Homo sapiens: one gene and its partners. The protein of the gene in region 7 purifies or fractionates together with the protein of the main gene of each other region. This does not show direct contact. Each region holds a gene or a part of one and is shown on either strand. Other genes may lie near its edges. The genes, in order: RELL1, NUMBL, SDCBP, PRKCI, ILK, KCNJ12 and RHOJ.

Region 1 (3,500 bases), on a different chromosome or scaffold from region 7:
CCAGCAAGCTGGCAAGGAACGAGGAACCTCCCCTCAGCCAGCCCTGCTTTGCCTGAAGGGCGACCTACTCCAATGTCACCTTTCTGCAGAAACTGCCCTTAGCAGGGCTGAAAGGAATAGGGGGAGTCACCTACTACCTCTCAAGGCCCAAGTCAGGAAACATCCCTAAAGATGATGGGAAAGAAACATCAGTGGCGAAAACAGGATTTCGTCTCCCCGGTTTTTCTAAACACTACCTTATGACTCCACATTAGGAGAAACAGATGAGACAGCCTGAAGTTAGTACTAAGGCACCAGCTCTTGTCATACTTTTTTCTGCACTGTGCACACGATCGTTTACTTAATAAACATAAATTCCAATCACAAATATTTAAGATAGAACTCCCCCAGCAAAAGTAACACCACAAACATGGGGAGACCTATTTTAATTTTTCCTTCACTCTTATTCGAATCTGATTCCATAATAATAGTAAGGATTAATATTTAATGAGTAGTCATATATTCCAAATACCAAATGCATCTTTCCTCTAAATTTCACAGAAACCCCAAAAGGTAAGGATTATTTTCCTCATTGAAATTAAATTAAAATGTCAAATGAATAAGATTAAATTAATTAAAAATACATTTAAGTGAAATTATACATGGCAGAGATTCAGAGCACACAATAACTTGTCTAAGGCCACAGGGCAAGAAAGGGTGCCCTATCTGGCAGGTATTCAGTAATGAAAGCAAGTTTTCAAACTAGGTGTGATTACTGCACAATCTGCACTTACACTACACTGCACCACCTGCCACTAAAATGGATCATTCTGCCTCAGAGAGATGGAAAGCATATATCACTGGTTTCATATTTAAAAACTGTCTCCTCACCCCCAATAAAAAGAGCCCTGGTTATTTACCTATCTTTTCAACCTTTTCCTCTTCGATATCTTGCTCTGCTTCTGTTGTACAACGATAGCCTTTCTTCTTAAGCAGGTGGCAAATGAGGACGCCAAAGAGACCCATGATAAAGAACACAGGGACAAGCGCGTATGCAATATATTCTGGGTGTCCATTCCCAGTATCGTTGCTGGGCGACGGGGTCGTCTCTGTTCTGGAGTGCAATGTGCGGCTGCTCCCATTGTCTACAGAAAGAAACATGCATGCTGCATTAGATATCTGTCCAGGGCAAGAAAAACCTAATGACTCTCAGGTAATGTTCACAGTAAGTCAGGGTCTGCTCCCGAAACCACAGGCCATGCAGACTGGTGGGTCCAGCTGCACAGGCAAAAGATAGCCCAGGTTTGAGCTCAAACAGTCTGAGTTTAACTCTGCTACTCATGAACCAGGTCCCATGCTGGGTCATTTTTTAAAACATCCTTTGAAGACAGCTTCTTCTTCATTGTGGAATGAGTATACAGGGTTGTCGTGAAGTGTCCAGCACAGAGTAAACACATAAACATTACATGTAACATTACAAACACAGAATGAACACATAAACACTACATGTAACATTACAAATATTACATAAACACTACATTACATTATAGCACAGTTCTTAGTGATTAAGAGCATGGCCTCAGAACACTCAAGTTCAATTCCCAGCTCCACCATTTAGCAGCTGTGTGACAATGGACAAGAACTTAACATCTTGATGCCTTGGTTTCTTATGAAATGGGCATACAAATACTACCTACTCACCCTTCTAGGATTGTTATAAAGATGAAATAAATTATTACGTGTAAACTAGCAAGCAACATAGCAAATATTCACCCACATGCCAGGCACCATTCTAGGCACTTGTGATGCAGGTTCATCACACTGAGCAAAACAGGCGGAGATTTGTTGTCCTCATGCAGCTTACATTCTAGGAGGATTTAGTAAACTAGCAGATCTAGAGTATGAAGAAGAGGGAAAAGTCAGGGATAGCATCAAGATCTTGGCCTGGGGTGCAAACATAAAAATGGAAGTGAGTGCACTTGTTTATTTGTTCACTAATCCCAATAAACATTGAATGCATGCCAGTTATGTGACAAGCACCACACTGGGTGGGAACTGGATAGAGTGATGAACAACGTAACGTAGCCCCTGCCATCTTGAGGCTCGTATATGATGGCATCAGAAACAGCCATTAAACAAGTATACACGGGCAGATCGTGACAGATTGTGAGAAATGCTGTGGAAGGAAAACACGGGGCACTAGAAGAGAAAAGAACAGTGGGGATCTACTTTATGACTTCAAGAATAGGGAAGCTTTGAAGTGGGCATCTTTTGGAGAAAAGGGAAGTTTTTGCCTTTAGACATGTCAAAGTATCACATGAATATATATATGAGAGACAGTTTGATATCTTAGCCTGCAGGGGTGCCACAGGGACTCCAGAAAGCAGTGAGCCTGGAGCACACAATTATACAATGTGGCCAACTGAGATCGCAGGAAGAACATACTTTGGGAGGCTGAAGGGGGTGGGGGGAGGGGGCGAATCACTTGAGGTCAGGAGTTCAAGACCAGCCTGGGCAACATGGTGAAACCCCGTCTCCACTAAAAATACAAAAATTAGCTGGGCATTGTGGTACACAACTGTGGTGCCAGCTACTGGAGAGGCAGAGGTGAGAGGATTGCTTGAGCCTGCGAGGCAGAGGTTGCAGTGAGCCAAGAAGTGCACCACTGCACTTCAGCCTGGGTGACAGAGCAAGACTGTCTCAAAAAAAAAAAAAAAAAAATTAAATTAAATTAAAAAGTATTAAAAAGTTAGCCTTATATATGTTCCTGTCACACAGTAAGCACTATAAATGTGTTAGCTACCACTATTAATATTTAGGCTGGGCACAGTGGCACATGCCTATAATCCCAACACTTTGGGAGGCCAAGGCAGGCGGATCACTTGAGGCCAGGAGTTCAGGAAGAACATACCGTGTAGCAAAAGAATCAGCAGAGCACCATGCCATGGAAAAATGAGGAGAGAAATACAAAATGAAGAGGGGAGTCAGGTAGATGAGGACCAAAGAAAACTGTGGGGTTTGACTGAAACAAAGCTTCAGTATTTGGAATATCCTGACTCTGAAAGGATAAAGTGAGGTTTTCTACATCAAGGGAGGTTCACACACACTGCTCAAGAAACCCAGAAATTGGAAAGCTAGAGACATTTAAATATAAGCTTTCTCAAGAGAATTTTGGTGAGAAAAGAATCCGTATTGTAATTGAGAGTGGCAGGAGGCAGTCAAATGCCCAGGCAGACAGGGTTGGGTCCCTGGTGAAACCCCACCTCCATGCTGAAGAATTTTAAAGCTTGAAAGCCAAGCTACAAGTTAAATCCTCGGACCAGATGGAGGACTTGTCTTCCTGTTTGGTGCGCTTTCCTCACAAACCAATCAGCACTCACTCCCCATTCTGAGTCCATAAAAGGCCCCAGACCCAGCCACACAGGAGGAACTTCAAGTAGAACCATTCCCCCGAGCCCCACATTGCCTCTCTGCTGAAAGCCATTTTCATAGCTCAATAAAATTCTTCTCCGCCCTCCTCA
Region 2 (3,500 bases), on a different chromosome or scaffold from region 7:
ACCTCTGCAGCTCCCTGCCCCCTGATACTGGGTACCCTGTGCCCACTCTGTGCTCTGCTGGCGCTTGGGGCAACACCCACCTTTCTTCTTGTCCGGGGCCTCTCGCTCAGCAGGCCGCCCACCCCCAGACAGGCGGAAGGAGCCCTCGCGGGCGAAGCTGGTGCGGCTGGCATCGAAGGCGGCCGTGACCCCACATTCCTTCTCCCGTCGCTGTTTTCGCTCCAGGCAGGCGGCAAAAGCACAGCCCACAGCGTGGCTCAGCCTCTCGCCCTATGGGGAGAGGATGGGCGGGGGGGTTAGAGGCGCTGGGCAGTGCGGACAGGGGCCAGGGGCACTGGGTTATAGCCGCTAGGTACTGGGTTGCCCCGGATGAGTCTCTGCACTTCTCTGGGCCTCAGTGCTCATCTGCACCACAAGGAAGGGCTGGAAATGACAGCTCCAAGTGAGAGAAGCCAGAAACCAATGAGCCTGTTGTGTGGCTCCACTTACTGGAAATTCCAGAAGAGGCAAAACTAATCTATGGTTCTATGGTGAAAAAAAGTCAGAACAGGCCAGGAGTGGTGGCTCTCGCCTGTAATCCTAGCACTTTGGGAGGCTGAGGCGGGAGGTTCCCTTGAGCCCAGGAGGTCAAGGCTGCAAGCAGCTATGATGGGGCAACTGCACTCCAGCTTGGGTGACAGAGTGAGATTCTGTCTAAAAAAAAGTCAGAATAGTGGTAGTTTCCTATGGGGTGGGGAATGACTGGAAAGTGTATGAGGGGATGACCGGGTGGTGGCAATGTTCTAGATATTGATAGGGGTTTCGTTACATGGGTGTATGCAGTTGTCGAAATTCGTTGACTGTACACCAAAGGCTTGTGCATTGCTATAGACTAAACGTGTGTGTCTCTCTCAGTTCTAACGCTGAAGCCCTCATCCACAATGTGCTGGTATTTGGAGGTGGGCCTTTGAGAGACAATAAAAGTTATGTTAGATCATGAGGTGGGGTCCTCATGATGGAATTAATGCCCTTATTTATTTATTTTTTTTCTGGGACAGGGTCTTACTCTGATGCTATGCTGGAGTGCAGCGGCATGACCTCAGCTCACTGCAACCTCCACCTCCCGGCTTCAAGCGATTCTCCTGCCTCAGCCTCTCAAGTAGCTGGGATTATAGGCATGCGCCACCACACCTGGTTAATTTGTGTATTTTTAGTAGAGATGGGATTTCATGATGTTGGTGAGGCTGGACTCGAACTCCTGACCTCGAGTGATCTGCCCACCTGGGCCTCCCAAAGTGTTGGGGTTACAGGCGTGAGCCACCATGCCCGGCCGGGATTAATGCCCTTAAAAAGGAAAAAGAGACAAGAGATCTCCCCTCCACCTTGAGAGGTGAAGATACAGAAAGCAGGCATCCATCTGCAAACCAGGAAAAGAGCCCTCACCAAGAAATGAGCCATTTGACACCCTGACCTCAGGTATCCAGCCTCTAGAACTGCGGCAAACAAATGTTTGTCATTTAAGCCACACAGTCTACACTATCTGGTTATAGCAGCCTGAACTAAGACAATCATATCTTTCGCTTTGAAGAAAAAAAAAATCTGGAAACAAATACGAATTCTACTTAATGGTGTGCATGCTGAAGTAGTCCAATGCCTACAAATTTGACATACAAAAAGAATCAGACGGTGTGACTGCAGTCGCTCACACCTGTAATCCCAGGAGGCCGAGGCAGGCAAATCACTTGAGGCCAGGAGTTCGAGACCAGCCTGGCCAACATGGTGAAACCCCATCTCTACTAAAAATACAAAAATCTGCCAGGTGTGGTGGCGTGCACCTGTAATCCCAGCTACTAGGGAGGCTGTGGCAGGAGAATCACTTGAAGGTTGGAGGCGGAGGTTTCAGTGAGCCAAGATCGTGCCACTGTACTCCAGCCTGGGGCAACAGAGCGAGACTCCGTCTCAAAAAAAGGAATGAACCACTGATACAAGCAGCTCACGCCTGTAATCCGAGCACTTTGGGAGGCCAAGGTGACTGGATCGCTTGAGTCCAGGAGTTCGAGACCAGCCTGGGCAACATGGCGAAATCCCATCTCTACAAAAAATTAGCCAGGCATGGTGGCGTGTGCCTGTAGTCCTAGCTACTCAGGAAGCTGAGGTGGGAGAATCGCTTGAACCCAGGTTGCAGTGAGGCGAGATTGCACCACTGCACACCAGCCTTGATGACAGAGAGAGACGCTGTGTCATTAAATAAATTAATTAAAAACATTGCCGGGCAGGGTGGCTCACACCTATAATCCCAGCACTTTGGGAGGCAGAGGCAGGCGGATCACCTGAGGTCGGGAGTTCAAGACCAACCTGACCTGCATGGAGAAACCCCATCTCTACTAAAAATATAAAATTAGCCAGCTGTGATGGTGCATGTCTGTAATCCCAGCTACTTGGGAGACTGAGACAGGAGAATTGCTTGAACCCGGGAGGCAGAGGTTGCAGTGAGCTGAGATTGCTCCATTGCACTCCAGCCTGGGTAACAAGAGCGAAACTCTGTTTCAAAAACAAACAAAAACACAACATTACACTAAGTAAAGAAGCCAGACACATATTATATGATTCCATTAAATGAAATATCCAGAATAGGTAAATCCACAGAGAGACAAAGCAGATTAGTGGTTGCCAGGGGGCTGGGGTAGTGGGGAGACGGGGTGAATTGATGAATGGAGATGGGGTCTCCTTTAGCGGTGATGAAAATGTTTCAGGACTGCTAAAGTCAATGGTTAAACAACACTGAAAATGTATTAAATGCCATTGAATTGTACACTTTTAAATGATTAATTTTATGTGAATTTCACCTCAAGAAAAAAAAAAAGTTGAACTTGGGGAATTCTACTGCTTAATGGTTAAAACTTCCTTCAGAAGTAGGAAGGAATTCATCCAACATCACATTCTTTACCCACAGGAGATGGTCCTGCTCTTTTCTGGCTTTCATTCTCATCCCCAAATAGTTTTTTTTTTTTGTTTTCTTGAGACAGAGTCTCGCTCTGTCACCCAGGCTGGAGTGCAGTGGTGCAGTCTTGGCTCACTGCAACCTCCGTCTCCAGGGTTCATGTGATTCTCCCCACATGTGATTCTCCTACCTCAGCCTCTGGAGTAGCTGGGATCACAGGCGCCTGCCACCATGCCTGTCTACTTTTTTTGTATTTTTAGTAGAGATGGGGTTTTACCAGGTTGGCCAGGCTGGTCTCAAATTCCTGACCTCAGGTGATCTGCCTGCCTTGGCCTCCCAAAGTGTTGGGATTACAGGCGTGAGCCACCACGCCTGGCCAATACTCTTTTTTTTTTGAGATGGAGTCTCACTCTGTCTCCCAGGCTGGAGTGCAGTGGTGCAATTTTGGCTCACTGCAACCTCCACCTCCCGGGCTCAAGTGATTCTCCTGCCTCAGCCTCCCAAGTAGCTGGGACTACAGGTGTGCACCACCACACCTAGCTAATTTTTTGTATTTCAGTAGAGATGGGGTTTTACCATG
Region 3 (3,500 bases), on a different chromosome or scaffold from region 7:
AACTGTGCAAATTATAATTTCGTTTGTCAGTGACTGGAATGACAAGCACCTCATTCCTTCCTGTGTGCCTCCTGCTCCTGTCAGTACTGTGTAAGCCTGGCCCTTTACACTGGCAGCAGCAGTTGGTTCCAGTCTGCAACTTTTACTGACACTCCCAGAACCAGCCTCATTACAACCCCTCAGAGGCACTAGTAGTGTCCCCTCATCCAAGGTCTGAGTCCCAGCTCCGTGGGGCTCTTCCTCAAGCTTCTAGGTTCTGCTAACTCCAATCTCTCTCCTGTGTTATCCCAGTCCTAGGAGAAGCAGCTAGCTATCTGCAATTACATCTATGTCCATTTATGTTTTTTTCAATTTTTCAACCTCTTAAAATACCTACTATTATTTGTTTTCCCAACTGCATCACCACTAACACAAGCAAGTTTTCAATAAATATTTGGTAAATACATAAATGCCAGGTACTGTATATGCATTGGGATATGGCAACAAGACAGACACAGATTTAACTACAATTATAATAAGTGGTACAAAGTGCTATGGTCATAGCAATAACCTTAATAAAAGGTTATCAGACCCATTATAATTAAGCTAGACTCTGGAGTCTAATTACATGGAGCTTTGAATTTCAAAAAGAATGTTAAAAGATTAAGAGCAAAGGCCAGGCACAGTGGCTCATGCCTGTAATCCCAGCACTCTGGGAGGTCGAGGCAGGTGGATCACCTGAGGTCAGGTGTTCGAGACCAGCGTGGCCAACATGGTGAAACCCGGTCTCTACTAAAAATACAAAAAATTAGCCAGGCATGGTGGCGCGCGCTTGTAGTCTCAGCTACTTGGGAGGCTGAGGCAGGAGAATTGCTTGAACCCAAGAGGCGGAGGTTGCAGTGGGCCGAGATCACGCCATTGCACTCCAGCCTGGGTGACAAAGTGAGACTATGCCTCAAAAAAAAAAAAAAAAAAAAAAAAGATTATGAGCAACAAAGATATGATAGACCTATATGTGTATTTCAGAATGATTAACTTAGCAGCGGCTTAGTACTGTCTGAAATAAGTTACTAGAGGAAATTTAAGAGAGTACTATAATAATGAAGGCTAGAAGTATAGAAACCCTGAATATGGTTATAGTAGGACTAGAATGGATAAAAAACAGATAAAATGAATACAAGAAACAGAAACAGAATCAATAGGACTTAGTAACTGACTAAATGCAGAAGACAAAGGAGAACGAACTAGTAAAAGGTATCTGAATCTAAGTCCTAATAAACTCAAAACAGTGTAGCACAAAATGAAGTAGACTATATAAGAAATGATATCCAAAAGGAAGTCTAAAATTTCTGAGAAGTGAGGTTCAATGCTAGTAGTATATCTGTGAGTTAGCCACAAAGAGGAAAGCTTATACTAACATGTAAAGTATGATTTTATATAAATCAAAATTAATTACACTATACATACCCCCTGAAGTGGTGCACCAGAAACCACGGCCACATTTGCACGTATTTCTTCTTCATTTAAACTCAGCCCCATGTATTGAGAGAGCTCTGGATACAGTCTGGGATAGAGATCTAAAAAGTAAATGAATAAATTAAAAAGCACTTACAGAATACACAAAATGAAAACTTCTCTCATTATGGGCTTCTGCGTATTAACAAAATTACACTTAAGTTATAAAATCTAGAATGAATTTAAAGTAGCAATTTGGAAAGGCATCTCCCCATCTCTGTAATAATGAGAAATGGAAAATACAGAAAATGTTTAAAATTCGTAAAATATGAAGACATCTGAACTGAAACAACCAGAGATTCCTAAACACTCAAAAGTAGAAATAACTTTTCCAAATAAACTATCTTGCCTTTCCTGTTTCTTAAAATAAACTTACTTGATTAGGAATTTAGTAAGAATGCCACTGATTCTCCAATTCAGAACAACTGACCAAAATATCTATTTGTCAAGTCAGCTACTTTATAACTCATTCTGTAAACAGGGATATGGAATGATTCTTATGAACAATTTTTTTTGGAAGCTTGTAAATTTATTTAGTGTCTTATCATTTTAATAATTTTAACCACATTCCAATGAAATCCTGGAAATGGTATTTTTAAATATTAACATTATTTCACTTATTAGTAGTTATATACTATTTCCAAAAGCTCTTTTTTACATGAGACTTAAATTATCTGTGACTTAAAATGAATTTTCTATGAGGCACAATGTTATAAACTGTTGTAAGACAAAATGACAGGCCACAAAAACTTATTTAACACTTATTTTGTATCTTAAGTCATAGTATTTAGGAGCTCTGTCCTGAATCCCTCTGAACCTTGAAGAAAAAGGGACCAAAGACAGGATACAGAGAATGAATAAAGGCCTTAAGATTTAGGAGGCTTCCCAAAGAGGAGGTGGTTGGAAATTTCAGAAGCTCCCATAGGAAAGACAGAAGACAATTCAGAAAGTTCAACAGCAGCAGCATGATAGTTCTTAAATGTGAATTCATATAGTTCTCATATGTGAATTCATATATATAATTCATTCATAAATGAATCAGCCACGTTAGGGATTTACAAGTCAGTCTAAAATTAATTTTCATTAAGCCATGAAATACATCCCCATATCCACAGTTCACTATCTTAATTAGAAAAAGGGTTATTTTTTGAAGTAAACTTTTTTTTCTTATTCATAACTATTTGAGCTTAACTACCAATTTTATGCAGCCTGTCCAAAAAAAAATCTTGGATTCCTTATATGAGCAAAAGAAGATAACAATATTTCTGTTCACAGAGAATGAACTCAAAGTATAAACCTACTTCCATCGTGAGGGATAGGAGCAGAAGCTTCTGACAAAATTGCTGGATTGGCAGGGTTTGCAGAAAAAGCAGTTTGAGCCTGAAAAAGAAAAGAAGAAAATTCTAACAATATGCTATACTTACTTTATATTCTTATATAATTTATAAGCTAAATCCAGTACTTCCAAAAAGAAACTAAAACAATGAAGATTTATGTAAGAAAGTTTAATTTCAAACACATCAGCAATACATTTTCCAAAGGAAATCTGCAAATCAAAACTATATTTGATATTCTAAATACTTTTAAGGCTATCACAAAAAAATTGTAGAAGTACCATTCTACATGTCTTATAACCAGCACTTCATAGTGCTGCCACAATAAATTAATATTTTCAAAGTGCATTCTAAAATGAATAAATTTTACATTTTCATTATTCTTTTACTAATTAGTCCAAGTAAAAATATTTTATTTGCATAAGAAAAAACCTTACCCATATTCATATAAAAGTCACATATCAGAAAAACACCTAAAAAATTAATACTAAGCATGTCCCACTGAAATCATCTTTATCTTCATTGCAGCAAGTATAGGAAGGGGTTTATGCTAAATACTTTTAAAATATCAGAAATTATGAAAATAGCACAGTTTATCACTGACATAAATCGATGATGACAAGGTAATGTAATTTGTAACTGTTAAACAAACTTGCCAAAATCACTCTGACA
Region 4 (3,500 bases), on a different chromosome or scaffold from region 7:
GATATCACTGATGGCAGTATTATTAGCAGGAAGTTATAAGCCTAACACTGTTGCATCCTCCATGATATCAACTTCATGAATTAGGGCAGAAAGGTTCTAACTGTGTAATATGACCAAAAATATGAAGCCCAGTAATCATTCTACTATCTTTCAATCTTACCTGCTTTCTGTCTGAAAGCAAGAATGCAGCCCAACAAGGAAAGGATGATTGGATGCCTGCTCAAACACATGCTTCTCTGTCTGTACCCAATCAATATCCTATTTTGAAACATGTAAGAAATCTATGTCAAACTGATATCACAATTAATGATAAATTTGCTCTGAGCAATTCAATGGTCACAAATGCAATGGTTAACTAGGCTAAATATCAAAACCATTGATAATCATGAAACGAAAATTTACATACAAAGAGAAAAATAACACTAGTCAATCTTTCAGTATTATAAAACTGTCTAGAAAACTTTTACAAAGCTCAAGTATTTCTCCTGATAATAATGTGGTTTGATTTTTGTTTTTTTAAAAAAATCTAATAATCAAATTACTTTAAATATCTTATACCATCTATAAGAAAAGTAAACCGAAATAATATATTTCATTTACTTAGCACATATTTAGAAAAGCAGAATGAGATAATAAAGCACAAACATAGAGGTTTTCTTTAAAATAGTACTCTTGGCTGGGTGCGGTGGCTCACGCCTATATTCCTAGCAACTTTGGGAGGCTGAGGCGGGTGGATCACTTGAGGTCAGGAGTTCAAGAGCAGCCTGGCCAACATGGTGAAACCCCATCTCTACTAAAAATACAAAAATTAGCTGGGCATAGTGGTGCATGCCTGTAATCCCAGCTACTTGGGAGGCTGAGGCAGGAGAATCACTTGAACCTGGGAGGCAGAGGTTGCAGTGAGCCAAGATTGCACCACTAGCACTCCAGGCTGGGTGACAAGAGCGAAACTCCGTTTCAAAAAAAAAAAAGAATAGTATTCTCAAGCAGTTTAGAAGCAATAAAATATGCAGTGCTTACCTCATCATCATTAACAAGCTCTTTTTTCACAACTTTCATTGCATAAATACGATCTGTTTTTTTTAATCGAACCAACAGTACTTTGGCATAACTTCCTCTTCCTATTACCCGGAGCAAATCAAAATCCTGAAGACCTAGACTGGATGAAGCTTTGCCACTTTCCCTGGTGTTCATTGCCTGTTGAGAACATTTGTATCAGAGTTATAATGGGAAATGCTTTGCGTAGTACATTATATTTCTAACACCTAGTTGTACCTATAACGATTTAAAGATATTTTCCTAACATAAAAATATTTTAAGTTCTTAATATTTTTCAAATGTCATTCCAAACCAAATAATCTAACTATCCAGATTATATGGATGAATTTTGAGATAAGAGGGATGGTAATAAGAATGGGGAGGGAGTTGAAATCACAAAAACATCGAAGGATGTCTTAAAAAGGATACGATAACTTTTGGGTACAGAGGCAATAGAGATGCAGGAATTAAAAAAACACATTAACCTTGGTGACCAAGAGATTGGGGGTACCACTGACAGGGAACGTCAAGTGTGTGGCTAGGATAAGATTGACAAAGTTACTGGAGAGAACGATTGGGTTTTTCATGATAAATTCAGAAGTTATAATGAGACATCAAGATGAAAGAGTCTGCTGGAAGCTTGATACATAGAATGTAAGCTAGTGAGAGCACACATTCAGAGGCGTTTTTGGATGCTATAGACAGAAAACAAGCATGAAGTAGTTCAGCGAATGGAAGACATTCTTTTCCACAGAATACCAAGACCCCTTTGGGACGACAAAGTAAGCCTTAAAATTCATTCACAACTACAAATGTAAGCTTCTAGCAATTTACAGAGAAGCCTGAAGACAGTCTTTTATTAGATGCCTGCAAAATCATCAGCACACAATGGACCCATGAGAATAAAGTATGAAATCTCTGAAGTGAAGAATACCAAGAAAAGCAAATAGTAAATTTTGAGAAAGATAAAGAAACCCGCAAGCACAAAACTGAAAGAAGGGTATTAGAAAAACTGAGTGAGAATGACAACTTAAAAACTTAGAAATAATAATTTAGGCTGCGCACAGTGGCTCATGCCTGTATTTTCAGCACTTAGGGAGGCTGAAGCAGGTGGACTGATTGAGCCCAGGAGTTCAAGACCAGCCTGGGCAATGTGCCAAGAAACCTCATCTCTACCAAAATATACAAAAATTAGCCGGATGTTGGTGGTGTGCACTGTAGTCCCAGCTACCTGGGAGGCTGAGGTGGGAGGATCACCTGAGCCAGGCAGGTCAAGGTTGCAGTGAGCTGTGATTGTGCCAGTGCGCTCCAGCCTGCATCACAAAGTGAGACCCTGTCAATAATAGTAATAATAATAATAATTTGATTTGGTAACAAGGTGATAGTTTGTATATCTGACCCCTCCAAATCTCAAATCTCATGCTGAAATGTGATCCCTAGTGGGAGGTGTTTGGGTCACAGGGACAGATTCCTCATGAATGGCTTGGTGTGTTCCTGTGTAATGAGTGAGTTCAGAGTGTGGCACCTCCCCTGACTCCCTTGCTCCCTCTCTTGCCATGTGGCACACCTGCTTCCCCTTTGCCTTCTGCCAAGACTGAAAGCTTCCTGAGAAGCAGATGCTAGTGCAATACTTACTGATCAGCCTGCAGAACCGTGCACCAAATAAATCTTGTATAAATTACCCAGCCTTAGGTATTCCTTTATTCCTTCCTTCATTTATTTATTTATTTAAGAAAAGGTCTTGTTCTGTCACCCAGGCTGCAGTGCAGTGGCACGAACATAGCTCACTGCAGCCATGAACTCCTGGGCTCAAGTGATCCTCCTGCCTCAGTCTCCCAAGTAGCTGGGGCTACAGGCATGTGCCTCCAAACCCGGCTAATTTTTATTTATTTTTTGTAGACATGGAGGGTCTTGCTATGTTGCCAAGGCTGGTCCTGAACTACTGGCCTCAAATGATCCTCCCGGTCTAAAGTCCTAGGATTATAGGTGTGAGCTGCCACACCCAACCTTCAGGTATTCCTTTGTAACAACACAAAACAGACTAACACACAAGGGTAAATACAGCAGAGTGAAAAGAAACCAGGTTTGAGAAGGTTAAGAAAGAAGAGAAGTGTAAGAAAGTAAGTCAACACATAGACTTGAAATATGGCTAACTGGAAACTATAAGAGAGAATCAAGTGGAGCAAAAAAGATAGAGTTAACTTCACCGACACAATAATAAGGCTGAATGAAATGATAGACGCCACTTAACAGTGAAATGTCATCTTCAAAGGGCCTAAAAAAGAAGAAAACAGCTGACCTAGAATTCTCTATCCTGCAAAAGTAGCTCACAAAGTGAAAGTGAAAGAAAAACATTTTCAGACAAAGAAAAACTGAGTGGATCCATCACTACTAGGTGCTCACTAAAGGAAAAACTAAATTGAGTTCTTGAAGGAGAAAATGCATGATCTCAGATGGAGGAA
Region 5 (2,298 bases), on a different chromosome or scaffold from region 7:
AACAGAACCCTTGTGCCCATACTTTTGCCCCCCGAGTTTGGCCTGCCCTGGCGCCACAGGCAGTACTGGAAGCTGATAAGTCAGGGCACAAATTAAAGGTCTAGGAGGCAAGACCAACTGATAAACAGGGGGCGTAATGCTTCCTGGGGATAATCCCATCTCAAGGAAAAGCTTTTGGCTATTTCTGTGTTAGCAGATGCGAGCAAGTTGTGGAGGAAAATGATTAACTTAAAGGCCACACCCCCCAACCCCTTCAGCTGTACGGGCATCTGGATGGCCAGACCCCTGATCAGCTCCAGGCCTTGCCTAGAGTCGCACACAGGAAGTGACCACAACACTAAGGCATCCGGAGGCTGCTGGCCCAGACCACGGACCGCCCCCTGCTCCGCCCCTTGAATCTGCAGCCCCGAACTGGAGGGAATTTCCTTTTATGGCCCCAGGCTGTCAGGCAGGCCCAGCTCCAAACCAATTGTTTTGTTTTGTTTGTATACTTTACTTTATAAAATACATATTTCTTGGAAAAGAAAAAAATCAGGTATAGTTTTAATCCCAAAACAGCCATTCTCATTTTCTTCTGTTTTCTATGCACAGGATTGCTAAGTAGGGGAATCCTGCTTTGCATGGTGGTTTGTTATCTACCTCATCAGTAGTCAAAAGCATTTCTCCTTTTCAACATAAACCCTTCCAAAACATCATTTAAATTCCATTCCATTTTTAGATGTTAGTTTCAGTACCAGAGCCAAATAGTAAGTTTGTTCCCTCTTCTATAAGTTGTGGCCTGCCTTCTCCAAGACACCCTTCTCCCCCACTAACATGCACTGAACAGCTGCTGTCAATCCATTCCCTCAAGAAACTTAAAGGTCTAACAGACAAGACAGTCCATTAACAGATTTTTACAATCCAGTGCAACAAGTGCTGAAGTAGGGGGACATATAAGATGTGGTGGAAAACAGAAAGGACCAATAGATGTTGCAGAAGGGGTGCAAGAGAAACCAGGGGAAGAGCACTACCACCTAAGGAAATGAGATGTGGGATATGGTGAAGATAACACATTTTTTTATAGAGGTTGTTGAGATATCTAGGTGGTTGGTTTGGTTTGAAGCTCAGGGGAAGGTCTGAAATGGACAGCTTTGGGAGTTGCTGGCATGAATGAGAATCAAAGTCCTAGAGAGGTAAGCCTTCCCAGAGAGTATGTAATTATCAGTTTTTCAGGAATCAAAACCTTTGCCCCATCCCACCTCCAGCTCAATGACCATTGCCCCTTCCTCAAAGGGACGATCATGGCTTCTCCCCCTTGCACTGGGCCTGCCGAGAGGGCCGCTCTGCTGTGGTTGAGATGTTGATCATGCGGGGGGCACGGATCAATGTAATGAACCGTGGGGATGACACCCCCCTGCATCTGGCAGCCAGTCATGGACACCGTGATATTGTACAGAAGGTACGTACAAACTCCTTCGTCATCCACATCACATACATGCCATGAGGGTCAGTCACAGGCACTGTAACATACAGTAGAAAGCATGTGTGCTCTTCCCCCTTTTCCCATGCCCTGACACCAGTATCTCATTTGGAACTGACTGTACTTTCTGCCTCTTCTTTTTGTCTGGCCATGGGGTCCAGCTATTGCAGTACAAGGCAGACATCAATGCAGTGAATGAACACGGGAATGTGCCCCTGCACTATGCCTGTTTTTGGGGCCAAGATCAAGTGGCAGAGGTGAGTACTCAGCCCTTAATTCCTGAGATGGGTAGGAAGTAAAGTCTGAGCCTTGGTGGGAGATTTTGGAACCCTCAACCCATTCTGTCAGTACTACTGTGTGACACTTACAGGATTAAGTTCTACATTTGTGCATTCATGGTTGGTTCAGTGACTGCCAGCGAGGTAGCAGTGGCTCTCATCATAATGGCCTTTTCATTCCAGGACCTGGTGGCAAATGGGGCCCTTGTCAGCATCTGTAACAAGTATGGAGAGATGCCTGTGGACAAAGCCAAGGCACCCCTGAGAGAGCTTCTCCGAGGTCCATCTCCCCATCCCCTAGCTTGTGTCCTCTCGTCCCTTCCCACCTGTCTTCTCCCTCTGTACCACAGCTTAGGTTGTTTTTCTTCCCTAGAGCGGGCAGAGAAGATGGGCCAGAATCTCAACCGTATTCCATACAAGGACACATTCTGGAAGGGGACCACCCGCACTCGGCCCCGTGAGTCACCACTGTGGGAAGAAGGGTTGTAAAAGGAAATAATCCTGGCCTCTTGGGGCTGGGTTAGGGTGAAGCTGGGTACCTGACCTGCCCACACTCTTAGG
Region 6 (3,007 bases), on a different chromosome or scaffold from region 7:
CCCAGCTGCTCAGGAAGCTGAGGCAGGAGAATCGCTTGAACCCAGGAGGCGGAGATGGCAGTGAGCTGAAATCGCACCATTGCATTCCAGCCTAGGTGACGAGAGGAAGATTCTGTCTAAAAAAGAAAAAAAGAAAGAAAAGAAAAAAAGAAAATGTGCTACCCTTAGGGAGTGGTGGTCTCAGGGTGGGGTTGATGGTTGAGTGCCCCTGGCTACGTTATTGTTATTGCTGCCGCCATTGTGCCCTTAGAAGGGGCAGTGCTGTGGATATAGCAGGGATGGGACATGGGTCTTCCTGGGGCACAAGGAGGCCTCTGGTGCCAAGGTGGCGAGGCAGTGGCAGGATGTCTTGCGGGAGGGTGTCCAGGGTGGGTTTGAGGGACAGCCTGGGGCCAGGGGCTGTGGCCGGAAGGGGAGTCCGCTGGAGGAGGCTGGGAGGTGAGGTCCGAGGGGTCAGGAGCTTCCCTGTGCAGGTCCTGCATGTCCTGGGGGGCCTCTGGCATTGAGCAGGGGAGGGATAGGCACCGACTCAGCTTCCACAGGCCCTCTGTGGCTGCCATGGAGACTGGGGGGCCATGGGCAGAGGCAGAGAGGCTGGCAAGTTGTGCCCCGAACTGGCTGGGCAGGCACTGTTAGATTCAGGCCTTGAGGGTGGGAGAAGGGGTCGGATCCTAAATAGACTCTTCAGAGCCCTCAGTGTGGGAGTGAGGTGTGGAGCTGAGGTTTTTGGCTGGAGCTGCTGGGGGCCCGAAGGGGGTGGCCATTCGCACTGGGAAGGCGGAGTGGGGAGCTGGCTTGGGCAAGACCAGAGCACGATCGTGGGTCAATCAGGGTGGAAGCGTCCTCCAGTCACGTCTGGGGGCCCTGGGATGGGGGTAGAGGAGCCCGGAGCCACCAGCCCAGCCAGACATGCTGTCGTCTCTGTTGCAGGAGCCGCCCTGCCTGGAGCTAGCCTGGGGGCGAGCCAGGGTCCCCCAACCCCCGGGATGACCGCGGCCAGCCGGGCCAACCCCTACAGCATCGTGTCATCGGAGGAGGACGGGCTGCACCTGGTCACCATGTCGGGCGCCAACGGCTTCGGCAACGGCAAGGTGCACACGCGGCGCAGGTGCCGCAACCGCTTCGTCAAGAAGAATGGCCAGTGCAACATTGAGTTCGCCAACATGGACGAGAAGTCACAGCGCTACCTGGCTGACATGTTCACCACCTGTGTGGACATCCGCTGGCGGTACATGCTGCTCATCTTCTCGCTGGCCTTCCTTGCCTCCTGGCTGCTGTTCGGCATCATCTTCTGGGTCATCGCGGTGGCACACGGTGACCTGGAGCCGGCTGAGGGCCGGGGCCGCACACCCTGTGTGATGCAGGTGCACGGCTTCATGGCGGCCTTCCTCTTCTCCATCGAGACGCAGACCACCATCGGCTACGGGCTGCGCTGTGTGACGGAGGAGTGCCCGGTGGCCGTCTTCATGGTGGTGGCCCAGTCCATCGTGGGCTGCATCATCGACTCCTTCATGATTGGTGCCATCATGGCCAAGATGGCAAGGCCCAAGAAGCGGGCACAGACGCTGCTGTTCAGCCACAACGCCGTGGTGGCCCTGCGTGACGGCAAGCTCTGCCTCATGTGGCGTGTGGGTAACCTGCGCAAGAGCCACATTGTGGAGGCCCATGTGCGCGCGCAGCTCATCAAGCCGCGGGTCACCGAGGAGGGCGAGTACATCCCGCTGGACCAGATCGACATCGATGTGGGCTTCGACAAGGGCCTGGACCGCATCTTTCTGGTGTCGCCCATCACCATCTTGCATGAGATTGACGAGGCCAGCCCGCTCTTCGGCATCAGCCGGCAGGACCTGGAGACGGACGACTTTGAGATCGTGGTCATCCTGGAAGGCATGGTGGAGGCCACAGCCATGACCACCCAGGCCCGCAGCTCCTACCTGGCCAATGAGATCCTGTGGGGTCACCGCTTTGAGCCCGTGCTCTTCGAGGAGAAGAACCAGTACAAGATTGACTACTCGCACTTCCACAAGACCTATGAGGTGCCCTCTACGCCCCGCTGCAGTGCGAAGGATCTGGTAGAGAACAAGTTCCTGCTGCCCAGCGCCAACTCCTTCTGCTACGAGAACGAGCTGGCCTTCCTGAGCCGTGACGAGGAGGATGAGGCGGACGGAGACCAGGACGGCCGAAGCCGGGACGGCCTCAGCCCCCAGGCCAGGCATGACTTTGACAGACTCCAGGCTGGCGGCGGGGTCCTGGAGCAGCGGCCCTACAGACGGGAGTCAGAGATCTGAGCCAACCTTGGCCGACATGCAGCATCCACCCCCGGCTGGGGAGAGGCCCCGCGGTCGCTCAGGGGCCCCGGGTTTGAGCAGAACGGGCCCAGTGCCCTGGGTTGCAGACTCAGTAGCGTTTTAGTCGTTTTATGTTTCTTTGCAACGGCCTCAGAAGTTTGGCCGGAGAGGGGGCAGCCAGAGCGGCAGCCCCCGGCCTCAGAGGCTATCACAGGCTCAGGGCAAAGAAGTGGCCTCCTGGGGGGCCAGGCCACGAGGGCCAGGGCTTCTGCCTGAAGATGGAGCTGCAGCCTGCGGGGAAGCAGCTCAGCTCGATGGTGGGCCCAGCCTCTGCTGTCCAAGGCTGGCTAGCTGCGGTGCTCCTTGCTGGTTTTTAACTTGGGGAGAAACACCGGGTTTCAGCTTTCTTGACCTTAGCTTGGGTGAGACTGTTTACAAAAAAAAAAAATTACCATGCAATTGAAAAAATTTTTTTTTAATTCACAGGGGGCAAAAAGAACAATTAGAATTCCATGGGTCTGCCAGGATGCAGCAGCTGGCTGAAGGCTCCAGAGGGTTCCCCGAGGTGGGACTGGCCTCTCCCCGTGTGTGTGGGCACCACAGTCCCTGGGCAAGCAGGGTGCTCTGGGACCGCACTTCATCGAGCTCACGAGCCAGCTAGGCTCTGTTTGTGATAGAAAAATCAAGACCATGTTAATGATCGTAATAAAAGCTTTCTA
Region 7 (3,500 bases):
TATTGTAGTCCCAAGTTTTATAAAAGACATCAAGTAAGGCCAGCAATAGAGGAATCAAGTTTCTTTTTCGGGTTCCCTGGGGTGATTTCCTATCAGCTTCACGTTCATGAGCTGGGGATTTGTAAAATGTGAGATGGCCTTTGACTTTGTTTTTGATGCGATCAGCAGCGGCACTGTCTGCAATCCAGGCCCAGCATTCTCAGACAGCGTGCAGTACGGATGCTTCTGGCTGGCAGGGAGGTCGTGGCAGTGGGCTGACTAGTGTGCTGTGTTGGGAGGGCTCAGAGGGTGATGGGGCAAGCCTCCGTGCAAAGGGAGTTCCTTTCTGGTCGTGCCCTCCTTTTTGGCTGGAGCTTGGCCACAGAGATTGGCTGCCATTCTCATCCCTGGATGGGGTGGAGGCAGGTCCCAGACAACCTCAGATAATTGAACAGCAGCTGTGACCCTCAGAACAGCGTTTCTTCTTTTTCTTGGGGTGGAAAATGGTGAGGATTGCTTCATCAAAAACCGCTTTGAGACCTTTCTGAGTCAGAGCTGAACATTCCAAGTAGCACTGTGCTCCGATCTTAAACACAAAAGAGAGAAAGGCATGAGAGATAAAAAAGAGAGAAAAGCACAGTGGTATCAACTCACTGCCCAGACAAGCACTTACTTCTGCCTGTCCTACAAACAGCCTGTGGGGTGGTTTGGATTATGTTTGTCTTTTTTTTTTTTTTTCCATTTCAATTTGTATCTGCTATCCTATTTTTTTTTTTTTGTATTTTTGTATTTTTTACTTTCCTTTATTTGCAATAAATGGTTGTGGATTACTTCTGGAAAGCAGTAAATCCTAAAATTGACCCATAGCCATTTATTCCTAAGAACATAAAAAATGCAAAGATCTAAAAAATTAGGAGACAATTCAAAACCAATGATATAATTTAAATATGTTTTGTGAAGAACAGGGGTGCATGATCTTGTTTTTCATATCCTCTCATTTGTAGGCAGAATGTGTAAATCATGTACAAGTGAAATGTATCTTCTTTGGTATGATAAAAGGCAAAGTGTCAGCTTGGTTGATAAAGCAGATAGAAAGAGAGTGAATGATATGGTTTTATAGGTCATTCTTGATTAAAATGTACCTCTTTTAAGGTATCCCTCAACAAGGTAATATCCAATTGGCATTATTATTTAGTTTTAACATACTTTATTTATTTATTTTTGAGATGGATTTCGCTCTTGTTGCCCAGGCTGGAGTGCAGTGGCACCATCTTAACTCTGCAACCTCTGCCTCCTGGGCTCAAGTGATTCTCCTGCCTCAGCGTCTCAAGTAGCTGGGATTACAGGCGTGTGCCACCAAGCCGGGTTAGTTTTTGTATTTTTAGTAGAGACGGGGTTTTCCCATGTTGGCCAGTCTGGTCTTGAACTCCTGACCTCATGTGATGCGCCCGCCTCAGCCTCCAAAAATGCTGGGATTACAGGCATGAGCCACTGCAGCCAGCCTTAACACACTTTAAAAGGCATATTTTTTAAAAAGTTAAAAAAAAAACCCACTAAAACATGTAACAATAACAATAAAACATGTAACGATAATCATAAAAGACATTTAATGCCAGAGACATCCTGTCAGTGTACAGTCTATATATTTAAATGATAAGGTATTTCATACTTGCATAGGGCTTCATTTTAAATATTCTGATGATTTCATACTATGGTGTGTTTGATAATCACAAACCTCTCATGAGAAATATAGAAATTCAGGCCAGAACTATAGATTCTCATTTAAAAATCACAGACCAGGGCAGACCATATTTAGCAGTCAGCTTCTTGTGAAGGAGACCTGCGGTTTTATTTGTTCATAAGCTCAGGAAGAGTCAATGATGTGATGTTGGCCTTTTACTATTAAGGACATCTGGAGAAATGACTTTAGTTTTTGATTCGCATTTTAAGAATCACTTTGAAAAATTAAAGCAGATTCAGAAGAGGTTGGCTAAATGGCGAGTTCCTGGAAACTACAGCAGACAAATGGCTAAAACAAGGTAGCAAAATCATAGGCCTATTATGCCCAATAGCTTATGTAAATGATAAAGTGGGGCTGGCGCAAGACAATAGGGAGAGGAGGGGACTATGGTGGGCTGTAAAGCACATGCCCCCTCTAGGGTGTGCAGTCTTATCAGCTTCCAAGTGGTAATGTTGGTTTACTATTGCCCATTTTTGTATTTTTCAAGAGGAGTTGGACATTTGGATTTTTTATTTAATATTTACCAGTTTATGAACTATTTACCATGGGCCAAGCAAGACACTGATGTGGGATATATTTGGCAGCAGCCAGCCAGTTTGCAATGTGTGGACTAAGTGAACTTGTGGTTTAGCTTAGAACAGAGCGGGAATAACCCCAGAGAGGTAAAATGAATTGCTTATGGGCACTCACCTAGAAAGTGAAAGAAATAGACCCAGAATCTGGGTCTCTTGATACATGTTCATTTCCTTGCTCTGTGGCAGTAACTGTGACCCCTATCACTCAGCTCTGCAAGAAGCTGGTCAAGTTGACAGTTAATGAAATGAGATTGTCCACTTATTTCAAAGGCCACAAATATGAAAACTAACCATCAAATAAAGTGGTTTTGGTTGGGCCCAGACACTATTTCCTAAACTCTCCGACAGAGATTATGCATTTTTCATTTTTTTCCTGACAAGAATGGTTACTGAATGAGCCAAGGGAAAATACCAAAAGAAAACGATGTTGGATGTTGAAAATCTATTTTATGGCTTTCATTTTGACCATGGTTTGGTTTTCAGATTAGAAAATAACTTTTTTAAATAATTAAAAACAGTTAGATACAAGAGAGGAATAAAGCGCAGAGAAAATTTTCCTAATAACATAATGAAATGCCTTCTATTGCATTTTGGGACTGTGTTCAATGCTTGATTCAAACACATGTGAAAAGCACATTAATCTAATGGCAACAGCGTTGCCAACTGAATGATTCTGAATGACTTGACTGTAACGTGGTGGCACTTGTCTGGAAAATACCTAGAAACTGCTGTAGCACCTTTCTATCTGGAATACCTCTCCACTAAGGATCCCAAGCCTAGGATTGATTCTGCCTGGAATTCCAGGACAGCTGGGCTGAGCTCACTCACACCTGGAGTCCTGCAGGAGGGGCAGGGCACTCCCCATCCTCCTGCCCCCAGTGTGCAGCTGACAGCATGTCAGGCTTTGCCTTTCGATGGAGCGGGAGGAGCCCAAGCTTGTCTCTTCCAATTCAGACATTTCTGAAGATAATGAAATAGCAGATAAAGGCATTATTGTGTAACTGAGTTAATATGACATTATGTTGTACTGATAGAAAAAGTAGTCATCAGATTATTGGTGTCATTTGGGAAACACGTGTGAGAAACAATCCAGTTATGAGGTAGGTATTGTTACCATGTGTCAAGTGCTATGAGGGTCGGAGAAGAATTCATCCCGGTTCAAGGAAAAAGCACAGCCAGATTGCTAAAAAAAATGATCTGTGTCC

Evidence for each region.
Region 1: the proteins of RHOJ (region 7) and RELL1 purify together in Homo sapiens (affinity purification with mass spectrometry, with the first as the bait; one study listed by BioGRID). This does not show direct contact.
Region 2: the proteins of RHOJ (region 7) and NUMBL purify together in Homo sapiens (affinity purification with mass spectrometry, with the first as the bait; one large-scale study listed by BioGRID). This does not show direct contact.
Region 3: the proteins of RHOJ (region 7) and SDCBP purify together in Homo sapiens (affinity purification with mass spectrometry, with the first as the bait; one study listed by BioGRID). This does not show direct contact.
Region 4: the proteins of RHOJ (region 7) and PRKCI purify together in Homo sapiens (affinity purification with mass spectrometry; 4 studies listed by BioGRID and IntAct, with this or other methods). This does not show direct contact.
Region 5: the proteins of RHOJ (region 7) and ILK purify together in Homo sapiens (affinity purification with mass spectrometry, with the first as the bait; one study listed by BioGRID). This does not show direct contact.
Region 6: the proteins of RHOJ (region 7) and KCNJ12 purify together in Homo sapiens (affinity purification with mass spectrometry, with the first as the bait; one study listed by BioGRID). This does not show direct contact.

The regions. Positions count from the first base shown.
Region 1 is NC_000004.12:37,648,377-37,651,876, forward strand, and holds part of RELL1 (RELT-like protein 1 precursor), read right to left. Parts: intron 1,125-3,500; coding exon 900-1,124; intron 1-899. UniProt on the Homo sapiens protein: Induces activation of MAPK14/p38 cascade, when overexpressed. Induces apoptosis, when overexpressed.
Region 2 is NC_000019.10:40,677,152-40,680,651, forward strand, and holds part of NUMBL (numb-like protein), read right to left. Parts: intron 271-3,500; coding exon 81-270; intron 1-80. UniProt on the Homo sapiens protein: Plays a role in the process of neurogenesis. Required throughout embryonic neurogenesis to maintain neural progenitor cells, also called radial glial cells (RGCs), by allowing their daughter cells to choose progenitor over neuronal cell fate.
Region 3 is NC_000008.11:58,570,261-58,573,760, reverse strand, and holds part of SDCBP (syntenin-1), read right to left. Parts: intron 2,875-3,500; coding exon 2,796-2,874; intron 1,557-2,795; coding exon 1,447-1,556; intron 1-1,446. UniProt on the Homo sapiens protein: Multifunctional adapter protein involved in diverse array of functions including trafficking of transmembrane proteins, neuro and immunomodulation, exosome biogenesis, and tumorigenesis.
Region 4 is NC_000003.12:170,277,924-170,281,423, reverse strand, and holds part of PRKCI (protein kinase C iota type), read right to left. Parts: intron 1,198-3,500; coding exon 1,021-1,197; intron 259-1,020; coding exon 161-258; intron 1-160.
Region 5 is NC_000011.10:6,606,774-6,609,071, forward strand, and holds part of ILK (scaffold protein ILK), read left to right. Parts: exon of another isoform or gene 1-1,272; coding exon 1,273-1,438; exon of another isoform or gene 1,439-1,620; coding exon 1,621-1,716; exon of another isoform or gene 1,717-1,920; coding exon 1,921-2,017; exon of another isoform or gene 2,018-2,110; coding exon 2,111-2,194; exon of another isoform or gene 2,195-2,297; coding exon 2,298-2,298. UniProt on the Homo sapiens protein: Scaffold protein which mediates protein-protein interactions during a range of cellular events including focal adhesion assembly, cell adhesion and cell migration.
Region 6 is NC_000017.11:21,414,357-21,417,363, forward strand, and holds part of KCNJ12 (ATP-sensitive inward rectifier potassium channel 12), read left to right. Parts: intron 1-930; 5' UTR 931-986; coding exon 987-2,288; 3' UTR 2,289-3,007. UniProt on the Homo sapiens protein: Inward rectifying potassium channel that probably participates in controlling the resting membrane potential in electrically excitable cells. Probably participates in establishing action potential waveform and excitability of neuronal and muscle tissues.
Region 7 is NC_000014.9:63,287,943-63,291,442, reverse strand, and holds part of RHOJ (rho-related GTP-binding protein RhoJ), read right to left. Parts: intron 3,256-3,500; coding exon of another isoform or gene 3,193-3,255; exon of another isoform or gene 3,126-3,192; intron 566-3,125; coding exon 419-565; 3' UTR 1-418.